Homo sapiens: one gene and its partners. The protein of the gene in region 6 purifies or fractionates together with the protein of the main gene of each other region. This does not show direct contact. Each region holds a gene or a part of one and is shown on either strand. Other genes may lie near its edges.

Region 1 (3,115 bases), about 120 Mb from region 6:
TCCAGGGGAGTCACTACATGGTTACCGCATCTGTATCCAGGCCATCCTGCAAGACAAGCCCAAGATTGCCACGGCAAACCTAGGCAAGGTGAGCTCTCAGTGATGGTGGGGATGCTAGGAAGCTAGGACTGGGGAGGCTGGGCAGAATCTATGTTGTTGGACTCAGGTTTGGGATAGTGGAAGACCTGTAAGCCTAGTAATAATGGGTAACACTATTAGCACCTATCCTGTGTGTGTGCTCTGGAAACATAGGAGCAAGGTACTGCTATTATTTCCCATTTTTATAGATGAAAAGATTGAGCCACAGAGGAGTTCAGTAACTTTCCTAGGCTCAGTCATCCAGTAAATGGCAGAGTATGGGCGAAGCCCACAAACAGAACCTGCACCACGTGGCCATAGTGCTCCACTCTTGCTCGGCCTGTCCTCCCTCTTCCAGTTGACATCTCCCTTCCCTCCTGGCTTTGGGGGGTGCTCCTGGTGTTTTGTCCTATCCCAATCTGCCTTCCCCACCGGTCTCCTCAGTTCCTGGAACTGCTGAGGTCCCACCAGAGCCGACCAGCAAAGTGTCTCACCATCATGTGGGCCCTGGGTCAAGCAGGTTTTGCCAACCTCACCGAGGGACTGAAAGGTAACAGGGAAATAGGGAAGAAAGAGGGAGGGTCTCGGAGCTGGAAAACTCCTCTTTGATGCCCCCAGTAGGTGCAAGCCTGAGGCCTCCCTCGTGACTTTTACCCCTGCAGTGTGGCTGGGGATCATGCTGCCTGTGCTGGGCATCAAGTCTCTGTCTCCCTTTGCCATCACATACCTGGATCGGCTGCTCCTGTGAGTAATGGGAGGGCAGCAAGGGGAAGGCTCAGGGTGTCCCAAGTGGCTGTTATAGCAAAATGGGAGGCTATGATCTTGGTCTCCATGGATATGAGGAAAATCAGGACCAGCTTCTCCCACCACCTTAGAATGTGATGGTGAGGAAGGAAGAAGAGGGAGCTATTAAGGGCTGGCAGATGGGGTAGAGTTTATACCCTTTTTCCTAGATGTTGGCTTAGCTGGGGTCATGGCCAAAACAGCTGGCATGGGTGGTGGTGTCCAGCGAGCCTGTTTCTTCATCCCCACAGGATGCATCCCAACCTTACCAAGGGCTTCGGCATGATTGGCCCCAAGGACTTCTTCCCACTTCTGGACTTTGCCTATATGCCGAACAACTCCCTGACACCCAGGTAGGACTGCTCTGGGGCACACCTGCTGAGAAGGGACCACAGCACCAGAACCACACTACATATTCCCGTCTCTCCTTCCCCAGCCATCCTAGATCTGAGATTTGCAACCTGGAAGTTCAAGAGTAGGTTTCAAGGGAACAGTGACCCCTTGAAATTATATGGACCCTTGAGTGTGATTGGCATATGGGCATTTTCTTAGGGATAGGGTCCATGGCTTTCAACAGATTTCCAAGGAGTCTCTGAGTAAAAAGATTCAGAGCCATTGCAAGGTCCTCAGTGGCTATTCCCCACAGGCAGGCATGGGCTCTGAAGCAAGCAAAAGGTTCATATCATACAGCTCCACTTATAGCTTATGCCTGTCTTTCCTCCCCACCCCACCCAGCCTGCAGGAGCAGCTGTGTCAGCTCTACCCCCGACTGAAAGTGCTGGCATTTGGAGCAAAGCCGGATTCCACCCTGCATACCTACTTCCCTTCTTTCCTGTCCAGAGCCACCCCTAGCTGTCCCCCTGAGATGAAGAAAGAGGTGAGGATATGGTGGGAGGCTTTTTCTCCTTCCCCAGGGGTCAGCTGTAGCGGTCCCTATCTGCTGACAAAGGCCTTGCCTTCACAGAGCCCATTCTGAGGCTTTTCCTTAGCTCCCTGTTGACAGCTGCCTGCCCCGCTCACTCGAGCTTCACCCTCAGAAGATGGATCCCAAGAGACAGCACATTCAGGTCTGGGTGGTTTCTGATGCCCGTCTCTTGCAGATAGTGATCTTTGAGCTCAAAGCTCTAGCTCAGGAGCCCCAGCCTCCTGCTTTACAGCCTCTCAGAGAGCTTTCTGGAGTCTTGACACTGTTTCTCCACCCCTTAGGGTGGATGTGCGGCCTGGATGGCCTTGCTTACGGGAAGGGGATCACCTCTTAGCACTCCCCGCCTCTGCCAGCCCCATGCCCCCAGCAGCCTCTCCCTCTGTCGTGCTGTGCAGCTCCTGAGCAGCCTGACTGAGTGCCTGACGGTGGACCCCCTCAGTGCCAGCGTCTGGAGGCAGCTGTACCCTAAGCACCTGTCACAGTCCAGGCAGGTGGGGTGGGAGGCCAGCCTGTCCCTGTGCTAGAAGCAGAAGGGGAGCCTGGGTCACTGTCCCATGGCCTGACACCTTTCAGGCTGAGTGGGAACATTGCTGGAGCAGCCTCTAGGAAGCTGCTGCTCTGTGGGTGGTAGGTGGAGGGTCTTTCAGCCTGAAGGAGCCAGGGCTAATGGAGGACAGGAGGATGGGTGAGGCTGCGCGAGCCACCTGACTAGGGGGTTGTGCTTTCCCCACAGCCTTCTGCTGGAGCACTTGCTCAGCTCCTGGGAGCAGATTCCCAAGAAGGTGAGGAGCTGGGAGGACGTGGCAGGTTGAGCCCTGTCTGGATTCTAGGTTCTGAGTGGGGGCTCCTCAGCCACTGTCCCTTCCCTGAGAAGGGACCCTGTTGGCATGGAAAATGAAGCAGGATGGAAGCTCTGGATTCCCTCACAGGCCAGACCTTTCTTGTCCATAGGTACAGAAGTCTTTGCAAGAAACCATTCAGTCCCTCAAGCTTACCAACCAGGAGCTGCTGAGGAAGGGTAGCAGTAACAACCAGGATGTCGTCACCTGTGACATGGCCTGCAAGGTGCTGGCACCCGGTCCTCTCCAGCCCACACGCTATCTTACATCTCTGTCTCAGCACACCTGGGTTGGGCCTGTATCACATTCCTGCCCCACCTGTCTGGAGCCCCCCGCTGCCTCCAGGATAATGTGAAGGCTTGACGCTCTTTCGGGAAGGCCTGGCTTGAGGTCTGCCCTCAGAGGCAAAGACCAGCCCCTCGCTTCTGACAACTGTCTCCTGCTCCCCTCCCACCAGGGCCTGTTGCAGCAGGTTCAGGGTCCTCGGCTG
Region 2 (3,500 bases), on a different chromosome or scaffold from region 6:
CTGCCTAACAGAAGTTCTGTTTGAGGACAGAAGAACCACATATAGGCCGGGGACGGTGACTCACACCTGTATAGTCCCAGCACTTTGGGAAGCCAAGGTGTGAGGTTTGCTTGAGTCCAGGAGTTTGAGACCAGCCTGGGCAACATGGCAAACTACAAAAAATACAAAACAATAGCCAGTGGACGCACCTGTAGTCTCAGCTATCTGAGGGGCTGAGGCAGGAGGATCACTTGAGCCTGAGAGATCGAGGCTGTGGTGAATGGGTGACAAAGTGAGACCTTGTCTCAAAAAAAAAAAAAATACAGATACAAACTTCAACCATTTATATTGCATGCTCCCTGAGGACAGGCACTACTATACCATGCTCTGGTCATAATAAATGTTAAAAAATAATGCCTATTTAATTAACTATCCAATTGAGTGAGGAAAAATAAAAAGAAGTGATGAAAACTAATGGTCTAGAAGGTAAATGGGCTAATAAGTTTAGACTTTTAGACTACAGTGGAGAGCAGCTTCCAAAAATCAGATTACGTTTTAATCAATAGTGAAAAACCTTGACATAGGAAATGAGGAGTAATCAAATGTAGAAGGTACTCAGAAGGCAAAATCCACAGCAGCCACTAAGGACTTAATAAATTTGGCACAAAATATGGCTGCCATAAGAAGAGAGCCCAAATAATCAGGAAAATATTAGGTAAAAGATGTTTCTACAATGCACCTGTCAGAGAAAACTCTCCCTTGCTCTTTCTAGTCTTAGGAGAAAGACAGTTTTAGAGAGAATCAAAACAATAGAGGTGGGCCTTAAATTACCACAGCATTAAGATACAAAGACCTGATTTAATGGATTATGGAAAACTATGATTCCATTTTGATGTAATACATATAATATAGATATACATGTAATTTAATTTTTCTGCCAAATCACAAGACTTTGCATACATGTATTTCTCAAAGCCTACATTTCCTTTGAATTAAAAAGGCAAGGTAAAACGTGCTTCCCTAAGAGTAGCGCTCAAAAATCATTCAATCTCAGCTAGGCGCAGTGGCTCACTCCTGTAATGCCAGCACTTTGGGAGGCGGAGGTGAGCGGATGACTTAAGGTAAGGATTCGAGACCAGCCTGGCCAACATGGTGAAACTCCGTCTCTACTAAAAATACAAAAAATTAGCCAGGGGTGGTGGCGCATGCCTGTAGTCCCAGCAACTCAGGAGGCTGAGGTGGGAGAATTGCTTGAACCCAGGGGGCAAAGGCTGCAGTGAGCTGAGATCGCGCCACTGCAATCCAGCCTGGGTGACAGAGCGAGACTCCGTCTCAAAAAAAAAACAAAAAATCATTCGATCTTCAAATTCCAAAACACAGATATTGTTAACATTCTCCTTCACAGAATCATGGATGGCTAAACAATCAAATCTCTCTATGGAGCTATTAATCTCAAATACTACATGAAATTGTAAGAAGCTAAACACATTTTTTGAGCTTAAAAGTGAAATACTGGCCGGGCGCGGTGGCTCACACCTATAATCCCAGCACTTTGGGAGGCCGAGATGGGCAGATCACGAGGTCAGGAGATCGAGACTATCCTGGCTAACATGGTGAAACGCTGTCTCTACTAAAAATAAAAAAAAAATTAGCCGGGTGTGGTGGTGGGCACCTATAGTCCCAGCTACTCGGGAGGCTGAGGCAGGAGAATGGCATGAACCTGGGAGGTGGAGCTTGCAGTGAGCTGAGATGGTGCCACTGCACTTCCAGCCTGGGCAAGACTCCGTCTCAAAAAAAAAAAAAAAGTGAAATATTAAAGATGTATCAAAGTAATAAATTAACCAAATGGTGTTTGTTTACTATTTAAATGCAAACATAAGATTGTTTTACTTTGCAAGACGGTAAATGTATCTCAAATATTAAAATCCAAAAGTAAAAAAAGAAAAAAATCAATCTTCAAAGACAAGACGAGATCGTACTTAACCAGATAACGACCTGCAATCGGCACTGGCAGCAACTGCACAATCCACAGGTTCAACCAGATCTGCATGACGACAATGGCCCAAACTAGAGACACAAAGTAGATGTCACTAGTTTTCTTCTTTCTAAGAAACGTTCCTATTTCAGGCCTTCGTCTGCCCAGAGTAGGTGAAGGGGAAGTGGGTGAAGGGGAGGAGGGTGAAGGGGAGGTGGACAACGTTGGAGCGGATTCTCCCCTGTCCACTGCTTCTGAAAAGGAAAAGAAAAACACCACACACCGCATTAGTCCACATGAGGAAATGGGAATACAGAGCCACTCATTAGGCTAGCCTGTTTCAGGCCTTCAAAATGTGCTGATATGGTATGATTACATCGGGTTAAAAAAGACAAAAATATTTGGACCTATGTTTGCATATGCACTGAAAAACATGGAGAATTACAATGCCAATAGAGCTTTAATTTAGGAAGACTAAGTTAGTTGGTGATAGAATTGGGAGTCATTAAAACAAAATACATGACAAAGTAGCTGAGAATTATAATTATCCCATAAAACTTATTCAAACTATTTAAAGAAACAAATGCTAACATATACTAGAATTTCTATATTTAAAAATCCCTTTTCTTTCAATAGAACTTTAGATTAGGTGTATTTATATACATTTCTGACACAAGAAGACTTTTCAGTGTTATTTCACCTAAAATGGAACCAACCAATCTTACAAGAACCCAGGGCTTTCAAACAGAATATATAAACATGAATGAGATACAAAAACAATGACAGATTTCTTGGGTGAGGATTTTCAAATAAAGGAAACCATACTGGATTATTTCACATAAGACACTGTTTTCTAACAATGCAACCACCATGTTACATTTTACTATAGGGTGCTATTATTTCTATTTCCTAGTTTTAATAAGATATACCATACACATCAGAAATCATAAAACTCTTAAAGTAGTATTACTCTATATATACTATAATAATGAAAATTATTAAGATCCTAAAACTTGCATTTTGCCTTCCATTAGAAAAAAATGTTAATTACAAAAGTATGTCACGTTGAATGTGTGGATTGTTAATTACAAAAGTATCATACGTCAGAAAAAAAGTCTAGAAAAAAGAGAAAAGAAATAAGAACTCCCATAATCCCAACCTCACATTTTCCCCCTGGTCTTTTACATAGTTGTAGCATGTTCTACTTATCCTTTCTCATTCTTTCTCTTCAGTTGAAAGTCAGCTCCACCAGAGCTAAGACCTTGTCTGTTTTGTTCTCCCTCCACTGAATTCCTGGCACATACAATAGTATCTCATATATAGGAGGTGCTCACTAAATAAGTGAATGAATGACTTCCCTGTTGTTTCATAATTTTCATAAGCAATCATACAGTAGCCCACCAAGTGCTGTATCATAATTTCCTTAAGTGTTTTTAATGTTAAAAGTTCAGCTATGAGTCAATTTTTACTACTGAGATCACTTGCACCCTGGTAAGTCAGCTCACCTCACTAGGACCAACATTCTACCCTTAAAAGTGCAGGGCTA
Region 3 (3,500 bases), on a different chromosome or scaffold from region 6:
CTATTCTAATAATTTTTATATAATTCTTTTAATATGTGTATTACACATAAGGCTTAAAAGTACTTTCCTGAGATTTATCTACTTACTGTATTTCATAGTTTCATTACTTGGAAGAATAACAGTAATTACATTTTAAGGCTTATGATTTAAAAAAATGTAACCTCATTGTTAAATTGGGGGCTAAAATGTCATGAGTAGGTAAATAGTATAATTTGCTATTAATACTTGTACATTGCTAATGCTTTTGAATGTTAGAATTGACTGTAAAGTGAAGTGAAAAAATAGCAAAATAAATATTAAATTATTTCTCAGTGCTGGATAATATTTAATTCTGATTCTCTTTAGTTGTAAAGATGGTGAATTTAGGCGCTATCAGGGTCCAAGGACTAAGAAGGACTTCATAAACTTTATAAGTGATAAAGAGTGGAAGAGTATTGAGCCCGTTTCATCATGGTTTGGTCCAGGTTCTGTTCTGTAAGTATGAGGGCTTTTTCTCTTACCCATTTCATAATTAATTGGAACAGATAATTATATTTTATGTAAAGCATTCATACTCAGTTTGTTTCTTGAGCTGTTAAGGTATATCCACATTTATTACATGTTTGATTTTTTTTTTTTTTTTTTTTTTGAGATGGAGTCTTGCTCTGTCGCCCAGGCTGGAGTGCAGTGGCGCAATCTCGGCTCACTGCAAGCTCTGCCTCCTGGGTTCACGCCATTCTCCTGCCTCAGCCTCCCGAGTAGCTGGGACTACAGGTGCCCACCGCCACACGTGGCTAATTTTTTTGTATTTTTAGTAGAGACGGGGTTTCACTGTGTTAGCCAGGATGGTCTTGATCTCCTGACCTCGTGATTTGCCCACCTCGGCCTCCCAGAGTGCTGGGATTACAGGTGTGAGCCACTATGCACGGCCTACATGTTTGATCTTTTTAGTTTGACCTTCTAAGTCAAACATATTTTCATGCTTCTTGAGTTAGAGAAGGCATTTTATAGAAGTAAGTTGTACACCTTTTCAGGAATATTTTAGCTTGCTAGATTTGGTCATATGTATCATCAAAAACTAAATGCCCCTAAGAGTCTTCACAGTGTAATGGGTAAAGCTATCACTCGAGTGTAATAATTTGAATGAGTAGGCTCAAACTTGTACTCATGCTACCTCCAGACTTCAATTTGTCTTTTAATGTTCTGTCTCCATAGAGACCGTCAATAATTGCCGATACCAACTAAATTAATTACATAAACTTCAACTCTTGATGTCAAGCGACTGAATTATGTTTGGTTGGTTATTCCACCTGTCTGATAACTTCTTATATGAATAGTGTGTATAAACGGTGACCGTAATAGTGTGCCTAAGCACTGAGCTTTATAGATATCTAGAGGGTAGATGAATTTCCTCGTAGCAACTGGCTATGGAGTGATAAGGATTGGAAGTAGCAAGCATGCTTTCTGCTTTGCTGTTGGAGTACAAGGCCTCACTGGTCATGTGAGAGACCTCTGGGAACAGTGAGTTTTGCTGAGGTCACCATGGACTGATCCTGTGTGGCCATCTGTCTCTTCCTGTCCTCTCACCACACTTACCTTTGGAGGATAGGGAGTTGGGACAGTAATCACATAAGAGAAAAATGCTCTAGATTCTGGGGATGGGAGAAAGATTAGCCCTGTTAACACTCACCCATTGAACTACCATGCCCAACTCAATTTTGGATCCTACTGTTTCTGAAATAAATTACTGCAGACTACAGTGAGGCTATACAGTGCTTTATGTTTCAGTTCCTTGTTTCTCTTCTCACTTGGCTTTTAAACAACAGAAGCAACATGATTAAAATACCTTTCTGTGTCGAACTAAAAGTATAACTGATTTTTGTTCTCTGAAATCTCATCTCATAAATGAATCTTGTCCTTCCAGTAGAAGAAAGTAGTTGCTTGTAAGTCTATTTTCAAGCAGCTACAATTGGGAACTCACAGACCTTTCTTATTTCTGAAACATGCCTTTTTAAAACTGGCCATTTAATTATGTAAAATACTAATTTTTGCTTATATGATGACTTAGCATTTATTTCCTATGTAATAATTTTGTATATCATTAAAAGATGTCAAACTAATGCTCTTGTAAATTTTAATTAATTTCAATAAAAAAGAGGGATAGTTCTTAAATGGAAAGAATTGGCTTGACAATTGTTTCCAGTCCTTACTTTAGCCTCCCTTTGGTCTTGCTTTGAAGGCTTTTAAGGGTGAGTAAGAGTTGCCTTTTCCAACTGGTTTCATGGAACTTGTAACCCTTTACTCAGTGTATTGGAGAAATCATCAGATGAAATACAAAATATTAACATCAAAACAGTGGGAGAAAAGGAAAAAAATACTGTCAAGTATTTTTATTTATGAGGCTGTCACATGGTAGTGTCAATTTAGAAACAGTTTTCATGAAGAAGGCTTATTACAGGCATGAAATCAGTGATGTGTCACTAGTCTTGATTAACAGCAATAAAATCTGTCATATTGGGGAAATTATAGAGTAGAAAATAGTATGTATAGACAAATCTGTGTATGTTACTCAGTTTTTTAATCATCTCTTTTATTTTTAGGATGAGTAGTATGTCAGCACTCTTTCAGCTATCTATGTGGATCAGGGTATGGACTAAAATATTTTTATCTTAAACATTTTTACCACTATCACTTTAACAAAAATGAACAGATTTTTAGTTTTTTTTTTTCTTTTGATTTTAGACTTGCCATAACTACTTTATTGAAGACCTTGGATTGCCAGTGTGGGGATCATATACTGTTTTTGCTTTAGCAACTCTGTTTTCCGGACTGTTATTAGGACTCGTAAGTATTTCATTTTTGGAGTGCTAGGAAGAAAGATATTTAAAAATGTGATTATTTAAAATAGTTACATTAGCTGTGGCATATATTCTACATTCAGATTTCTTACAATGTTTATTTTTACAGTGTATGATATTTGTGGCAGATTGCCTTTGTCCTTCAAAAAGGCGCAGACCACAGCCGTACCCATACCCTTCAAGTAAGTATATTTTAAAATGTTTATTTTTTATTCACGATAGTCCTATTCATTTCTGTAATCACAATCACACATTTCACAGGTTGCTCTTCCAGCTTAGAATTCTAACTGTGGATTGTTGGTCTTTATCAGCTATGGCATAAAGGAAGGTAGAGGAGATGTATATTTCATATAAGAATGTAGCCCAGTGGATTTTGGAACATTGTTATTTTCTTGACTCTTATATTATGGGGAATTTTAACATTGCATATAGCATGTAGCTATTTAATAATATTTATTTGGTGTCGTTTTATAAGTGGAGTATATTCTACTCTTGAAGTCTTTCATTAGTATACCGGCCGCCACATTTGAAGATTATTCTTTGAATGCCAGCCAACTGTAAGTTTTTTCTGGTAGGATATTGGGAAAAGCAATCCCTATAGTTGATTTAGGATGCCACTGACACTGAACTGTACTACAGAACAATTTAAATAATTACAAGCAT
Region 4 (3,500 bases), on a different chromosome or scaffold from region 6:
AGCGTCCAAGGCCTGCAGCAGCCTGTCTTCCCCAGCCACCAGCCCCTGACACTGCCTGGGGATGTTCCCACAGGATCCATAAAGGCCTCTGTGGAAGGCGGGCAGTGGCGGGCTCTGGGTGACGGTGGTTCAGCCACCTTTGTCTGTCGACTTCTAGCTGGGCAGCTCCTTCTCTGTGGTCAGGGTAGCCCTGTGGCTGACGCTGCAGTCATTGGGCTGAAGCTGTTCCCTGAGTCCCCAAAGTTGCCCTGCATCTGCGCCTCTGGCTAGGCTGCCCCAAACTACCTGGGGTAGTGGGGGGCAGCTGTGGTGGTGACACAGCTACCCCTGCAGAAAACCTGTGGAGCGCCTACCTGGAGAAGGGTGACATCGTGGAGAAGCATGGGCTGCCCTCCGCAGATGCCCCGAGCCTGAAGGAGAGCCTGCCTCTGTACGTGGTCGCTGACATCGCCACATCCTTCACCGTGCTGGTCGGCATCTTCTTCCCTTCTGTAACAGGTGAGCCCTGCCTGCCTACCCACCCAGCCCTGTCCCCAATCCCGGGGAGCCCCTGAGGGAGTCTCATCTGTTTTTGGAGGCATCATGGCTGGCTCAAACCGCTCTGGGGACCTTCGTGACGCCCAGAAGTCTATCCCTGTGGGGACCATTCTGGCCATCATTACAACTTCCCTCGTGTGTATCCTTTCCCAGGCCTGGGGCAGGTGGGGCAGAGGACGGGAAGCGCTTGGCCTGTGTACGTTGCCAGGTCACATGCACAGACACCCCACACACTCATATATAGCTCCCCTTCTCATGCACACATGCACATACACACCACGAGACTCCCAGCTGTAGGTGTCCTGGTAGTCTGGCTGGGGTGGGGGCACGTGGTACTATTCAGGGACAGTGGGGTGGCAGAGGCCGAGTTTTCCTTGACGCCGCCGCAGACTTCAGCAGTGTGGTTCTCTTTGGTGCCTGCATTGAGGGTGTGGTTCTCCGGGACAAGTGAGTGAGCTGGGCCCCCCTCTTTAGCAGCGGCTGGGCTTTGGCCTGCCCTCACACCAGCTCCCAACCCCGTGGGTGGTCCTAAGCCTGCTGGCTGCCTTTGGTGGTCTGTGCCATCCTTCCGGACCCCTGACATCCCTCACTCTGGTGGCCCCTGCAGGTATGGCGATGGTGTCAGCAGGAACTTGGTGGTGGGCACACTGGCCTGGCCTTCACCCTGGGTCATCGTCATCGGCTCCTTCTTTTCAACGTGTGGCGCTGGCCTCCAGAGCCTCACAGGGGCACCACGCCTATTGCAGGCCATTGCCAAGGACAACATCATCCCCTTCCTCCGGGTGAGCCCCTCTGCACTCCCCCATGGCCTGGCTGCTCCCAGGCCCTCGCCCGGCTGGGGAGAGAGATAGGGAACACAGATGCAGCACGTCCTGCCCTTATTGGCCCCCGGGGCCAGGCGGCCATCCATGAGGAGCTACTGAGAAGTGCCCTGGGCCTGGCACTCACCTGGGCCTGGAGCTGCCTGGACCCAGAATCTTCATGGCCTGTTTAGGGCTCATCCAAAGGAGAGAGGCCTGGTGAGGTGGAATCAGGGAGACTGGTGACACCCATAGGGATAGACACAGGGGCGGCCTGAGCCCCCAAGGCGGGCCCTGGGGGTGAGGGAGGCCAGGCTGGGGTCTGGGGCCCAAGGTGTGGAATGGGGGTGACAGGACCCAGCTTCCTTCCTGGTGCACACAGGTGTTTGGCCACGGGAAGGTGAATGGTGAACCCACATGGGCACTCCTCCTGACGGCACTCATCGCCGAGCTGGGCATCCTCATCGCCTCCCTCGACATGGTGGCCCCCATCTTATCCATGTGAGCTGGGGCCGGGCAGGGCAGGGGGATGGGGAAAGGCTTCCTGAACCCCAGCACCTCCCCGTGGCTGCGTCTGGTGTTGGAGGTCCAGCTGGGAGATGTGGCAGGCTGCATGGGGAGATGTGGCCTGACAGGGCTCAGCCCACCCCTGCATTTAGGAGCAAGCCTGGCACCTATGCCAAAGCTATAAGGTGACCAATATGTCCACACCTCCCTGAGGCCCCCAGAGCAGGTGGCCGGCAGACCTTCCCACTGGACAGGGCAACCACCGCGTCCCTCATGCCTCCATGAAGCCACTGCTGCCCCTTCCATCTGTTAGTTTGTTTTTTGGTTTTTGTTTTTTTTTTTTGAGACAGAGTCTCACTCTCTCACCCAGGCTGGAGTGCAATGGCATGATCTTGGCTCACTGCAATCTCCGCCTCCTGGGTTCAAGCAATTCTCCTGCCTCAGCCTCCTGAGTAGCTGGGATTACAGAAATGCACCACCACGCCCAGCTAATTTTTTGTATTTTTAGTAGAGATGGCGTTTTACCATCTTGGCCAGGCTGGTGTCGAACTCCTGACGTCAGATGATCCACCTGGCTCGGCCTCCCAAAGTGCTGGGATTACAGGCGTGAGCCACCATGCCCAACCCATCCATTTTCAAAGTCATTTGCTTTTAACATTCTGGAATCAGCCAGGCAAATCTGCGTGCCAGTGCCTTGCAGGGAGTGGCCAGCATGTGGTGACTCCCAGGGACCCCGAGGCAGCGCTTGTTTGGTTGACTCTGTCCAGGCTGGGGTCCTCGCCCACCCTGCTCCGTGGCTGACGCTCCTTCTTGCTTGTGCGGTTATGAAAGGCCTCCTCTTCCCTGCCCACTCAGCCTGCAGACTTGACAGGGGCCCTGTACCCCTGAGCAGGCTCCATCCCAGCTACAGCCAGGCCTGCTGGAGCCAGCACCCTCTTGTCCACCCCCCCACACCCCTTCCTCTCACCCAAGAGCACACCTGAAACTGTTTTGCCACAGCCATCTTGGGTGGTGACCCCCCTTGTGCCCAAATCAGAGGCTACATCTCAGCCTTTATCTCGGGCCTCCTGCTGGGAGCCCCTGCCCCCTGGCATGCCCTGTGTGGGTCCTCCTGCCTTCCTGCGCACCCGTCCTCGGGTGCCTTCCTGGAGGGCTCATGCAGCTGGCCCTGCCCATGCGTGGGACTCCCACGCCCACCGCAGTGACTCTTAAGTATCTCTGACTGGTTGCATTCAAATGGTCCAGCTTATCTTCCATCCTCCCCTTCATGCATGGCAGCCTCTCATCCAGCTGGTCACTCAGGCCAGAGGCCTGAATGTGGCCTAGAGTCTCCAGGCACTGAGCTCTTCCTGCTGCCCCTGCACCACCCTCTTCAGCTCTGCCCTGTTACTCCCCTTCCTACCTCCTCCAACAGCAAACCCTTGCCCATCCTCTGCGATCTGGCTCCGAGGACTCCTCCACAGTAGTCTCATTGCCTCAGGCCATGGAGGTGGCAGCAATGAGGTTGAGAAGACCTTGCTGAGCCATGCAGGGCAGGGCCGGGCCACGCCCCGTTTCTGGGCCAGGCCCAGCCTGACATCAGGTCCCCAGCTGCCGAGGAGGCTGCTCTTCGCCAACCGCCCTCTGTGCCGCAGGTTCTTTCTGATGTGCTACCTG
Region 5 (3,500 bases), on a different chromosome or scaffold from region 6:
ATAATAATGTCATCAAATGCCAGTCTTGCTACTATTAAAGGAAGAAAAGCTAAGCTACCTATGATCACACACACACACACACACACACACACACACACACAGAGAGAGAGAGAGAGAGTAATTAATATGGTATTAATGAACCCTCTAATTTGTTGGAAATGATTTTTAATTCATGAAATGCAAATCATTTAGTGTCAACTCCTTTACCCTCCTCCCATTCTAAACAATTCATTCCATTTTCAGGTTTGCCTTTAGGACATTTTCCCTGACATTTGTGTCTTTGACTTATTCTACTCCTTTAACTAAATGACTTATTCTTTAAAAGGAAAATAGAATTCACCTCCCTTAAGTATTAGTGCCTTGGAAGTCCTTATAAAATACTTGATCTGATCCATCCCACTCTCAATTAACCTTCACTGCATCCAGTTATATTTTTAATCTCTCCAATCTCTTTTTTTTTCCTTGCTGCTCTTCTCTAGGGCCCTCTCCAATATACAGTATCTCTTTGTGATAAAGTCACAGTCTAAATTCAATGCCTTGTTGTCAACTCAGAAACTGAGACACAGATCACCACCTTCCTGCTTTGACATAGATACTTCAGTACATGCAGGCTTGAGCTAAAATGATATGGGCTGCCAGATGACACTGGAAATGCATATATTGTCTACTTTCCACTTATATTCAGTTCAATTTCAGAACTGTAGTTTTTCAGGGATTTTTGTAAAAATAAATTGACATACTATAATTTTTTATCCTGATTAGTTTGCATTATATCTGACTACCTTCATTTTACATGTGCATTTGAAAGTTGTCTCATACTTTATCCTGTCAGTTCTCTTTTTATACATACATAAGCTTCTATGTATTCATATTTTCTTGTATATTCTTACCCAGTAAACTTAGAACTCAATAAATACATGTTCATTGGTTTTATGTGTCCATATTTCTCAAGAGTTCCAGGAGGAGTCATACTGAATCCCAGCTTGGCTGCTTGCTAGCTATACGATCCTGGGTGAATGACTTGTCTCTCCAACCCTGAATTTTCTCCCCTATTGACATGGGGATATGGAAACAGGTAAGGAATAGAAGGTATGAAAAGTATCTAGCAGAATCCATGTCTGCTACCCCATAATGGCTAAGCAAATGTTGGCCCCTTTTTTCCGTCTACTTTATAAAATGTATTTAGTATGACATAATCCATAAGAATTTTTAAATCAATGCAGAGAGTGTGAGAAACTGCAATGCAAACTTGGACTAGGATAAATTGCAAAACTTTGGCCATGCAGAAAATTAAATTGGATCATTCTATATAGCATATGAGCTTGGGACTCTCTTGACTTGGCTCTGGTAGCAGAGGAAAAAAATAATCTATTTCTTTCTAGATACTTGAAGTCCCTCTAAAATAAATGACAATAATAAATAAAACTTCATAATTTAACTTACTAGCCATAGCAAAAGGTACTACCTAAGAAGAATACCTAACACTCTAAATGTATACTCCATTGATAGAGAACCCAATAGCCTACCCTCTAATCCAGCTAAACATTAAGTTTCCATTCCTCCAAGGTTCTGGGTGACTGCCCAACTTCATTCTTAAAGAAGTTAAATCAAGTGCATTTTTGGATAACTGTTAATCATAAGTAAATTCCAAAACAGAGATATCCTATCCAGTCTAGTTATCTTAGTTATATTGCTCTCAGACATTACTAATAAAAAAGGAATTCATTTGATGGTAGTAATTAAGTACCACCAACTGTGAATTTGTGATAACCTAAAAGTATATTATATAATGTTAATTCAGCAAAAATATTTTTGTGATTTCAAGTTCTACCAATTCATTGTTGCATGAAGAAAAGTTCATGTTTTGACACTTTATTTATAGACCTTGGGAACTATGAAGTATGGTTCTCAATAATTATGACATTTTAATTGTAAGCACCATTTATCTAATAACTATAATACTTAGAAGCAATTTCTTGAAAAATATCAGCATAATCACTTTTTAAAAATATTTTATTTCGTCCCCATTAATCAAAAAACTTTTTCTATTTGTGCAGAATTGAGAGTCTATTTACCACTCAGACTAGAATAAAATAATGTGGACTCTTCTGCCTATATAATTAGCATTGAAAAACTAATATTTCTAACAAGCGTGTCATTTTAAAACATCTGCGTATTAGCAACTAGTACAGTTTTCACTTAACACCTCTATAAATGAGTTATATGCACTCTAAAAACATACTTAAATAAACAATCCAATTACATTTTAAAACTCTCTTCAAGAATGTCTAATATAGCAAAGAAAAATACTTATCTTTTAATAAATGTTGCTTCTGCCTAAGGGGTCACCTCAAATCTTCTGTGAAATGAGGCAAGGTAAACATATGTAAATAAATATTAATAAAATCATTAACATAGTAGCTTCTTGTTTATTATTATTATTTGAGACAGAGTCTTGCTCTATCAGCCATGCCGGAGTGCAGTGGCACAATCATGGCTCACTTACAGCTTTGACCTCCTGGACTCAAGTGATCCTCCTACCTCAGCCTCCCAAGTAGTTGGCACTACAGGCATGCTCCACCATACCTGGCTAATTATTTTTTGGTTTTTCTGTAGAGACAAGATCTCACTACGTTGCCCAGACTGGTCTCAAACTCCTGGGCTCAAGCAATCCTCCCGCCTTGGCCTCCCCAAATACTGGGGTTATAAGCATGAGTACTGTGCCTGGCCAGCTTCTTATTAATATAGGTAACATTTATATAGGGAGCAAGACAGAAGTTAAAAGTATTTATCAGAGGAAATGGTAAACCTCAACATGGAGGATGCAATATGGCACAGAGGTTCTAGAGCATGGGTTATGGTCATCAACACCTCTAGTTGAATCTTAGCTCCACTGTTTTTATATTAAATTAAATTATCCTTGAGTGAGTTACTCAAACTCTCTAAATCTTGATTTCCTCTTCTGTAAAATGGAAATCATAAGAGTACCTACCTCTTTGGGGTTGTATGAGGACTAAATGAGATTATTCATATAAAAGCACCCAGAATAGTACCTACACATAACAGGCACTCTATAAATGTTAACCATTATTATCATCACCACTGCACTATAAATATATGTATACGTATAATGAAAATAGTTGAATAAATTCAATTCTTCTGTATACAAATCAGACCAGTAGGCAGACCCAAGCCAGCTAGTAAACCCCTATGTTCAGATTATAGGTCTCAAATTCTATTCATTAGATCTTAAGCTGCCTCTCATTGCCAGCATATATCTCATCCTGCACCACCAAAAGAACAATCTGGTTACTCATGCTATATCACATTAATATGCAAGTTCATCACTTCAGCAAGAAAATCACAAACAAGTGGTTCATTCATGACTCATTTTATTCATAACAATCTCAAACCTGTCACCCAAAAATCAGCTTTTACAGCAACCGCTAAATGAAGTAAACATATTCACATCCGAATTCATTCATTGGTGTCCAAAAAAA
Region 6 (3,500 bases):
TAATGCACCTTGGGGCAAAAGCCGAAGGTCAGAATATACACAATACAACCAGCTCTCACCTCAACAGGGGCAATACAGAAGAGGATTCATACAAAGAGACAATAAATACAAAGATAGAGACCAAAAGAGGAAGTCAAACTGCTGTGTTTCCTAAAGCGTGATCCTTAGAATGTCTGCAGCAGAAGTACTTGAAGTTCTTGCTGAATGCAAAAATGCACAGGTACAGCCTGAGATACATGCAAATCAGAAACTCTAGGGCAGGGATCTGGGCATCTATGTTATTAAGCATTCCCTAGATAATTCTTAAATATAGGAAACCAAAAGGAGGCACAGGACATTGGAAGTTGTGGGAGGAAATTACACTGAAATTGAGAATTAGATGCACAGAGAGGAAGACCAGCTATTATCTTACGTATAAAGGATTGATCTTTTACAAACAATCCTCCTTCTGGGATATGGTGGTTCACTTTAAAAGCTGACTTAGGACTGGCATGAGTACAAGGGGAAGAGTGTTCAGAATCAGAGTGATTGTGTAGGGAACAGAGAAAACAAGCCCAATAATTTGCCTTAACACCACCAAAAATCTTCTTGTGAAAAGGTGAGGGTAAAGCATAAAACATCTTTTGTAAATTACCGCACCACCCCAGTTAAATCACGGGAGGTTTTCACTATACTGAAGGATGCCTTTTCCTGGCCAGTTTTTGAACCACTTCTTATTTGAAATAAAGTGATATTTCTGCAGCAAAGAGAACAGTCTTACTTGAAGGATGGAGGTAGATAATGTCTTTCACTGTGAAGTCTCGGGACTGAGCAGCTTTCAGACAATCCGCCAGCAGGCTCAGGAGCAGGAGCCAGGCCAGAGCAGGGCCAGGTTCCATGGCAGACTGAAGTGTCACTCATACAGAGGGCCTGGGAGTGGGCACTCAGGGCAACAGGAGAGAACTTGCACCTGAAAAATGAAGAAAGAATCATCTCAGTGATCGACTGGAGAAAGCCACAGGAGGCTTGGCTGAGCTCCCATGCTGGTAAGATGGGATGGAGAGCAACAGGGCACAAGGAAGTGGGTAGACATGGAGAGAAACTTTATCAACAGTAATTTTAGAGCACTGAGAACATTCCAGCCCAGATCTAGTCTTAATCAGGTTGCTAAGGCTCCACTGGTAGCCATCCCCTCTCATATCCAGCAGAGATGGTATCAAGAGAGACTGAATTTTAACAAAATCCAGCTATTTTTTGCTAGGAGGCCAGGGGATGGCTGCCAGAGTACGATAAAGAAGTCAGGAGCAAAAGCTCAGAAGCATTTCCCTGAGAATGGTGCAGGTCAGATAGGGAGTTCAGCCATACTGGGCCACGGGTGTCCATGCAAACCTGTACAGGGCAGACTTTCAGATTTAGGAAAACAAACAAATACAGGAAAGCTGACCTCTCCAAAATTAAAAAGTGCCTCCGTAACACAAAATCTCCTTAATGTAACTAATATTTGTTGGCCAGGTACTACTGAAGTCCTTTATGTATATCCATTTATTCTCCCAGCAACCGTATGAGGTAGGCATAATTATTAACCCATTTTGGGTAAACTGGGGTTCAGCAAATAAGTAGCAGATCTGACTCTAACCCAGGCAATGTGGCTTTGGAGTCTGCACAGTTAAACACTAGGCAATTCTTTGTTCTTAAGACTGACTTAAGGTGTATTTAAAAAACGGATTGGATGGGCGTAGTGGCTCATGCCTGTAATCCCAGCACTTTGGGAGGCCAAGGCCTGGATCGCCTGAGGTTGGGAGATCGAGACCAGCCTGGCCAATACAGTGAAACCCTGTCTCTACTAAAAACACAAAAAATTAGTTGGGTGTGGTGGCAGGCACCTGTAATCTCAGCTACTCTCGGGAGGGTGAGGCAGGAGAATCGCTTAAACCTGGGAGGCAGAGGTTGCAGTGAGCTGACTTTGTGCCATTGCACTCCAGCCTGGGCAACAAGAGTGAAACTCCATCTCAGAAAAAAAAAACCAAACTGATAAGATTGTGTTATCGCTATAGCACTAAGTGATTACTATCTACTGTGTCCTTTATTCTGATTGTCCTTTTCACTCAAAATTAAGGAAAAGACAAATCTGTAATAAGCCTGAATTGCTCTGCTTACTGGGAATGCAGAGATCTGTCTTAATTTTTATATAGGTGCTATTCTCTTGCTATCTTCTTGGTTTCCTATAAAGCTTATTCCTCATGTTCTACTACTTTTCCAAGTACCATTATCTCTATTGCTCTGCAAGGAGTCAAGGTTACTCATTTTATTTTAACCTAGCTGAAAACAAACAGTTTTGATATTTTGTTTAATATAAATGTTCAACAAGATTTTTTAAATAGCATAATTACTTTGTAAAAATACATAGGCAAGGAAATATATTATGAAACAGAAACTCAGTACAGAAAATCAATACGACCCAATCAGATCTAGAATATACTACAAAGCAAAATTAATCAAAACACAATGATAGAAGGTATAAAAATGAACTTACAAAGTAGAACACTCTAAGGAGCCCAACAGACCCAATTGTTTATAGGGTGCAAGCAATTGTTCAAAATTACAGAATGGGACCACATTAAGTGAATAGTATTATAACTTTTTAAAATATTTTTTTAAATAGCTGAAACCATAAAATGCATAACATGCTAAATTACTTCCAGATGTGATTATTCTTTTTTAATTGGCAAATTGTTAGACAACAGAGTAGAGCTCTCTTATCACTTGTAACAGCTTGATAATGCCAACCTTGCTAATTTCATGCTCACTACGCCATCTTCTGTTTACAATTTAATTCCCCAAGCAAACCTGGCATTCAGGAAGAGAATGGGCCACTCAATCACTTAATAAATGTGACTGCCAGGCACTGTGCTGGGCACTTGGTTGAACAACATGATGAAAAAACAAGTATCCACCAGTATCTTTCCCTTGCAAGTCAGCAGCCAAGTGACAGAGACAAACATCACTTCATCTTGAATGAATTCAACAGTGCTTCTTTCCACATCCATCTGGCTTTTCTCTGCCAGCATGGTGAGGTTGGTAAGGTGAGGCTGCACCTCTGGGACAGGTCTGCACAGCATCCCATGGATACCTGGCAGCACTATGGCCAATACCCCCATCTCCTCCCAATCTGTACGTAGCAGGGCTCAGTTTGAGAGTCAGAGATCAAAATGGAATGAACATTATGTGTGTAACTGTAAACATAAATGTGAACAAATGCACAGACAAAAGACTGGAGAGGAAAATACAAAATTAAGATAGTAAATCCATGGTGTATGAGTTAGCCCAGGCTGCCGTAACAAAATACCATAGACTGGGGGGCTTATACAACAGAGATTTCTCACAGTTCTGGAAGCTAGGAAGTCCAAGATCAAGGTGTCGGCAAGGCTGCTGTCTCCTGAGGCCTCTCTTCTTGGCTTGCTGATGGCTTTGCCCTACATGCATAGTCCTGGTGTCACTTCCTCTACTCATAAGAACCCAGT
Region 7 (3,500 bases), on a different chromosome or scaffold from region 6:
GGGGAGGACCATCCTCCAGATGCGCCAGTGGGCCGTGGCCAGAGAGGAGGCTGAGGAGGGCCTCACAACTGTGTGTAGGATGGGAGGGCAGCCTGGGGCCCCAGTCTAGGGACGCACCATATACAGGGGCTGCACTTGGTGCAGAGGCGGAGAGGGGGCTGGGGCAGGCCCCTTGGGCATGGCCAGGTGAGCTCAGGGGGTGCCTGAGGGCCAGGGCTAGATACAGAGGCCCTGGGTACCAGGTGGCCTGGGTGTGTCAGGAGGTGTGGACCAGTGGGGGCTGTGACTAACTCGGCTGGAGCAAGTGACAGGAGGAGCTGGGGCTTCATGGGGCACCCCCAGGATCCTGGGCTGGTGACCCCATCACTGCCACCAGCCAGGGTGACTTTTCCTGCTGGGACCCAGAGCCCAGACTGCAGGGGAGGCTGGCCCTAAGTAGGAACCCCACCCTGAAACCAGGCTGGCGGGGAAGGGGTGCGACGGCCTCCACCTGGGAGGGGTCCTCAGCCGAGAGTCCAGCGGGGACCGCTGTAGACGCTGAAGCGAGGCTCAGGCCTCCACATCAGTCTGTCCCTGGAGCCCCGCCCCGCCCCGCCCCGCCCCAGCTCCTAGGTCGGGTTGTGCCGGGAGCGTTCGGCCTTTGCCTCGGGTGAGTCTGGCCTTGACCCTGGGTCCGGAGTCCTGCGGGAGGCTGCTCCGGGCAGGGTCGTGCATGATTGGCAGCTGGGCCGGGAGGGGCCGAGCCCTGAGACCGACCGGGGGCACGGGCGGAGCCACCATCGGCGGGGCGGAGCTGCTCCCCGCGCCCCTTCCACGGCTCGGAGGACTTAGGTAATGGCCGGCTGTGCGATCCGATGTGCCCGACGCCAGGTGAGCGCCCCGCGGGGACGACGTCTCCTGCGCTCGTGTGACTGTCGCCGCCGCCGTCATTGTTACTCGGGTCAGACTCCCACCCGCCCGCGCGTCCTGGGCCCCCGGCCTGGTGAGGTTTGTCCCAGAGGCGGCCACGTGCTCCCTCCAGGTGCGCGAGGCCGAGGGGCGGACGGGGCGCCGGAGTCCCCGGGAGGGCGCGGGCGGTGGCCGTGGAGCTTGGGCTCGCGGGGGGCAGTGGGCGGCGCCGAGGAGGCGCGGGCCTAGTCCCTGCGCTTCCTGGCCCCGGGCGCGCTTTGCCCCTGGCTCCCGGGCAACCGTTCTGCGCCCTCCGGGGAGTCTGGCGGTGCCGGCGCCGGGGGAGGGGCTGTGCCACCTGGGTCGGCCTGCGAGGAATAGTCCAGGGCGCTCCACACAGGCCGGGTGCCCGCCTTTGGCTCTGGCCGGGTACCGGGCTCGCAGACCCACCCAGGAGACACCGCCCCCCGCCTCCCGGGCTGAACTCTGACCCGGGTCACCGGTGGGTGGGGCTGGGTGGCGGGGCCGCCGGTCTCGCCCTCGCCGGGTCTCCCGCGCGCTCTCCACCCAGTCCCTCCCCGCGCCTACCCACGGGCGCGGCGCTGCGGGAAGGGGCGGCCGGGGTCCTTGCCGACCCCCCAGCCCCACGCCCCGCGGCACCCCCCTCGCGCTTGTTTTGAAAACAGCGGAGGCTGGGATTCGCCGGCGCGTCTGTTTTGTTTCCTCTGATGTGTTTAGCGCTCTGGGATAATTGCAGATTTGCGTGTGTCGCTAGCTTTGGCCCGGCCCCCTGGCTGCTGGCTGCGGGGCCTCCGGGGCCTCCGTGGCTTTTCTGTGACGCCTGTCGCCCCGTTCCGGGACAGCCACTCTCAGACGCGCCTTGGCCTGTGCTTGGGGCAGCCTATCGCTCACTTGGTCCGAGGCTGCTTCCCCCGCCCCCGCACCGGGCCCCCCCCCCACCCCACGCAGGGCCTGTGTCCACCCCAATCCTTTGAGCCCTGGAGGGCCGCACAGCCCTAGGACCTCTGCCTTCTCCACCGCCCATGTCCTAGGTGCTCATGCCACCCCCTCCTGCCCTCCCAGGCCTAGGCCCGAGCTCTCCTCGTTCTTCATGGCGGCTGCTGCCTGGATCCCCATCTTGGCCCCTGCCGGGCCGCTGCCCATGCACCTCCTCTGGCCCCTGCCCTCTCTGGTTCCCGTGCCAGAGCCCACAGCCTGGCCTGGCCAAGAGCAGCCCCCAAGCTGGGCCTGCCCTCCCACTGGGCCTGACTGCTTTGTGCTGGTTTGATTTTAGCATTAAGAATGGTCAGTCTGGCTGGGTGTGGTGGCTCACGCCTGTAATTCCAGCACTTTGGGAGGCCAAGGCGGGTGGATTGCCTGAGCTCAGGAGTTCGAAACCGGTCTGGGCAACACGGTGAAGCCCCATCTCTACTGAAATACAGAAAATTAGCTGGGCATAGTGGCGTGCACCTGTAGTCCCAGCTACTGGAGAGGCTGAGGCAGGATAATTGCTTCAACCTGGGAGGCAGGGGTTGCAGTGAGCCAAGATCATGCCCCTACACTCCAGCCTGGGTGACAGAGTGAGACCTGTCTCAGAAAAAAGAAAAGAATGGCCCAGTCTGTTTGCTTGAAAATACTGAAAGGCAGAGAACTCCCAATTTTAGTCCCCACTGGAACCACCCCGCAGTGCAGCCAAGACTTGGGGCGGTCTCAGAACCAAGGCTGGCAGGAGTTTGGGGGCCTGGCAGCCCCCACTCTTGGCCTCATCTGGAGTAGGGCTCTGTCCTTCCCCCTTACATGCCTCTTGTTTACCTTTACCCAGTGGGAGGGGCGGGGGCCAGACTCAGCCCGTGCAAGGGGCCTGGGGGCTGCTGGTCAGAAAAAAAAAACAAAAGGGACCTCAGGAGAGGGCCACAGGTGCCCAGCCAGCAAGCAGCTCCTGCTGCCTCCCAGGCTGTCTAGGTTGTAGAGGGGAGGCCCAGCATCCCTGTGCTGCCCTTGGCCTACATCGGAGTTCTGGTTGGGGGAGGAGACCCTTCTGCTCTGTTGGCCTGGGGGTGACCTGCGGGGACAGGTCTTCTGGGCTCGCGCCCCTGCATGTCACCACCCCTTCCCGGCTCACTGAGTTTGGACCGGCAGGTGCCCAGTGACCAGATCCAGTGTTTGGACTTGTTGGGGCAGGGCGGCGGGGCAGCCGGGGCCTGTCGGGGAAGACCATAGACCACAGAGCAAGGCCAGTCCCTCAGGGGCTGGGTTAGGGAGGGTGTCTCGGGGTCTAAAGGATGGGCAGGGGCTTTCCAGGGAGCACAGTGAACATGGACGTGGGAATGTCGTGAGGCAGCGTTCTCTGAGTGGGCACAGCTGTAAAGATTTCCACACCCACTCAACCTCAAGGCAGCCCTCTGAGGTGGGCGCCATAATGACCCCCAGGTTACATATGGGGAAACTGAGGCACAGAGCAGCTTTCTGAATGGCCCACATGAGCCAGCTAGAACGTGACAGAGCTGGGGTGTGAACTCACTGGTCTGGCTCTGGACTTCAGGCCTCGAGGTCCCTGGGTGCAGCAGCGTCAGGTGTGACCACAGCCACCTAAGGAAGAAACTCCTTTTTCT

Evidence for each region.
Region 1: the proteins of LYPD6 (region 6) and TMEM214 purify together in Homo sapiens (affinity purification with mass spectrometry; 3 studies listed by BioGRID and IntAct, with this or other methods). This does not show direct contact.
Region 2: the proteins of LYPD6 (region 6) and TMEM245 purify together in Homo sapiens (affinity purification with mass spectrometry; 3 studies listed by BioGRID and IntAct, with this or other methods). This does not show direct contact.
Region 3: the proteins of LYPD6 (region 6) and TMX1 purify together in Homo sapiens (affinity purification with mass spectrometry; 3 studies listed by BioGRID and IntAct, with this or other methods). This does not show direct contact.
Region 4: the proteins of LYPD6 (region 6) and SLC12A4 purify together in Homo sapiens (affinity purification with mass spectrometry; 3 studies listed by BioGRID and IntAct, with this or other methods). This does not show direct contact.
Region 5: the proteins of LYPD6 (region 6) and DNM3 purify together in Homo sapiens (affinity purification with mass spectrometry; 3 studies listed by BioGRID and IntAct, with this or other methods). This does not show direct contact.
Region 7: the proteins of LYPD6 (region 6) and PLXNB2 purify together in Homo sapiens (affinity purification with mass spectrometry; 3 studies listed by BioGRID and IntAct, with this or other methods). This does not show direct contact.

The regions. Positions count from the first base shown.
Region 1 is NC_000002.12:27,035,965-27,039,079, forward strand, and holds part of TMEM214 (transmembrane protein 214), read left to right. Parts: intron 1-5; coding exon 6-88; intron 89-522; coding exon 523-628; intron 629-740; coding exon 741-822; intron 823-1,112; coding exon 1,113-1,214; intron 1,215-1,596; coding exon 1,597-1,738; intron 1,739-1,825; coding exon of another isoform or gene 1,826-1,837; exon of another isoform or gene 1,838-1,850; coding exon of another isoform or gene 1,851-1,928; intron 1,929-2,067; coding exon of another isoform or gene 2,068-2,181; coding exon 2,182-2,273; intron 2,274-2,519; coding exon 2,520-2,568; intron 2,569-2,737; coding exon 2,738-2,851; intron 2,852-3,082; coding exon 3,083-3,115. UniProt on the Homo sapiens protein: Critical mediator, in cooperation with CASP4, of endoplasmic reticulum-stress induced apoptosis. Required or the activation of CASP4 following endoplasmic reticulum stress.
Region 2 is NC_000009.12:109,088,948-109,092,447, forward strand, and holds part of TMEM245 (transmembrane protein 245), read right to left. Parts: intron 2,209-3,500; coding exon 1,975-2,208; intron 1-1,974.
Region 3 is NC_000014.9:51,246,747-51,250,246, forward strand, and holds part of TMX1 (thioredoxin-related transmembrane protein 1 precursor), read left to right. Parts: intron 1-345; coding exon 346-474; intron 475-2,579; coding exon 2,580-2,625; intron 2,626-2,721; coding exon 2,722-2,823; intron 2,824-2,946; coding exon 2,947-3,019; intron 3,020-3,500. UniProt on the Homo sapiens protein: Thiredoxin domain-containing protein that participates in various redox reactions through the reversible oxidation of its active center dithiol to a disulfide and catalyze dithiol-disulfide exchange reactions.
Region 4 is NC_000016.10:67,948,138-67,951,637, reverse strand, and holds part of SLC12A4 (solute carrier family 12 member 4), read left to right. Parts: intron 1-333; coding exon 334-498; intron 499-577; coding exon 578-676; intron 677-926; coding exon 927-984; intron 985-1,144; coding exon 1,145-1,319; intron 1,320-1,719; coding exon 1,720-1,838; intron 1,839-3,478; coding exon 3,479-3,500. UniProt on the Homo sapiens protein: Mediates electroneutral potassium-chloride cotransport when activated by cell swelling. May contribute to cell volume homeostasis in single cells. May be involved in the regulation of basolateral Cl(-) exit in NaCl absorbing epithelia.
Region 5 is NC_000001.11:171,844,498-171,847,997, reverse strand, and holds part of DNM3 (dynamin-3), read right to left. Parts: intron 1-3,500. UniProt on the Homo sapiens protein: Microtubule-associated force-producing protein involved in producing microtubule bundles and able to bind and hydrolyze GTP. Most probably involved in vesicular trafficking processes, in particular endocytosis.
Region 6 is NC_000002.12:149,435,087-149,438,586, reverse strand, and holds part of LYPD6 (ly6/PLAUR domain-containing protein 6 precursor), read right to left. Parts: intron 950-3,500; 5' UTR 879-949; coding exon 761-878; intron 1-760.
Region 7 is NC_000022.11:50,297,647-50,301,146, reverse strand, and holds part of PLXNB2 (plexin-B2 isoform 3 precursor), read left to right. Parts: intron 1-635; exon of another isoform or gene 636-649; intron 650-811; exon of another isoform or gene 812-1,021; intron 1,022-3,500.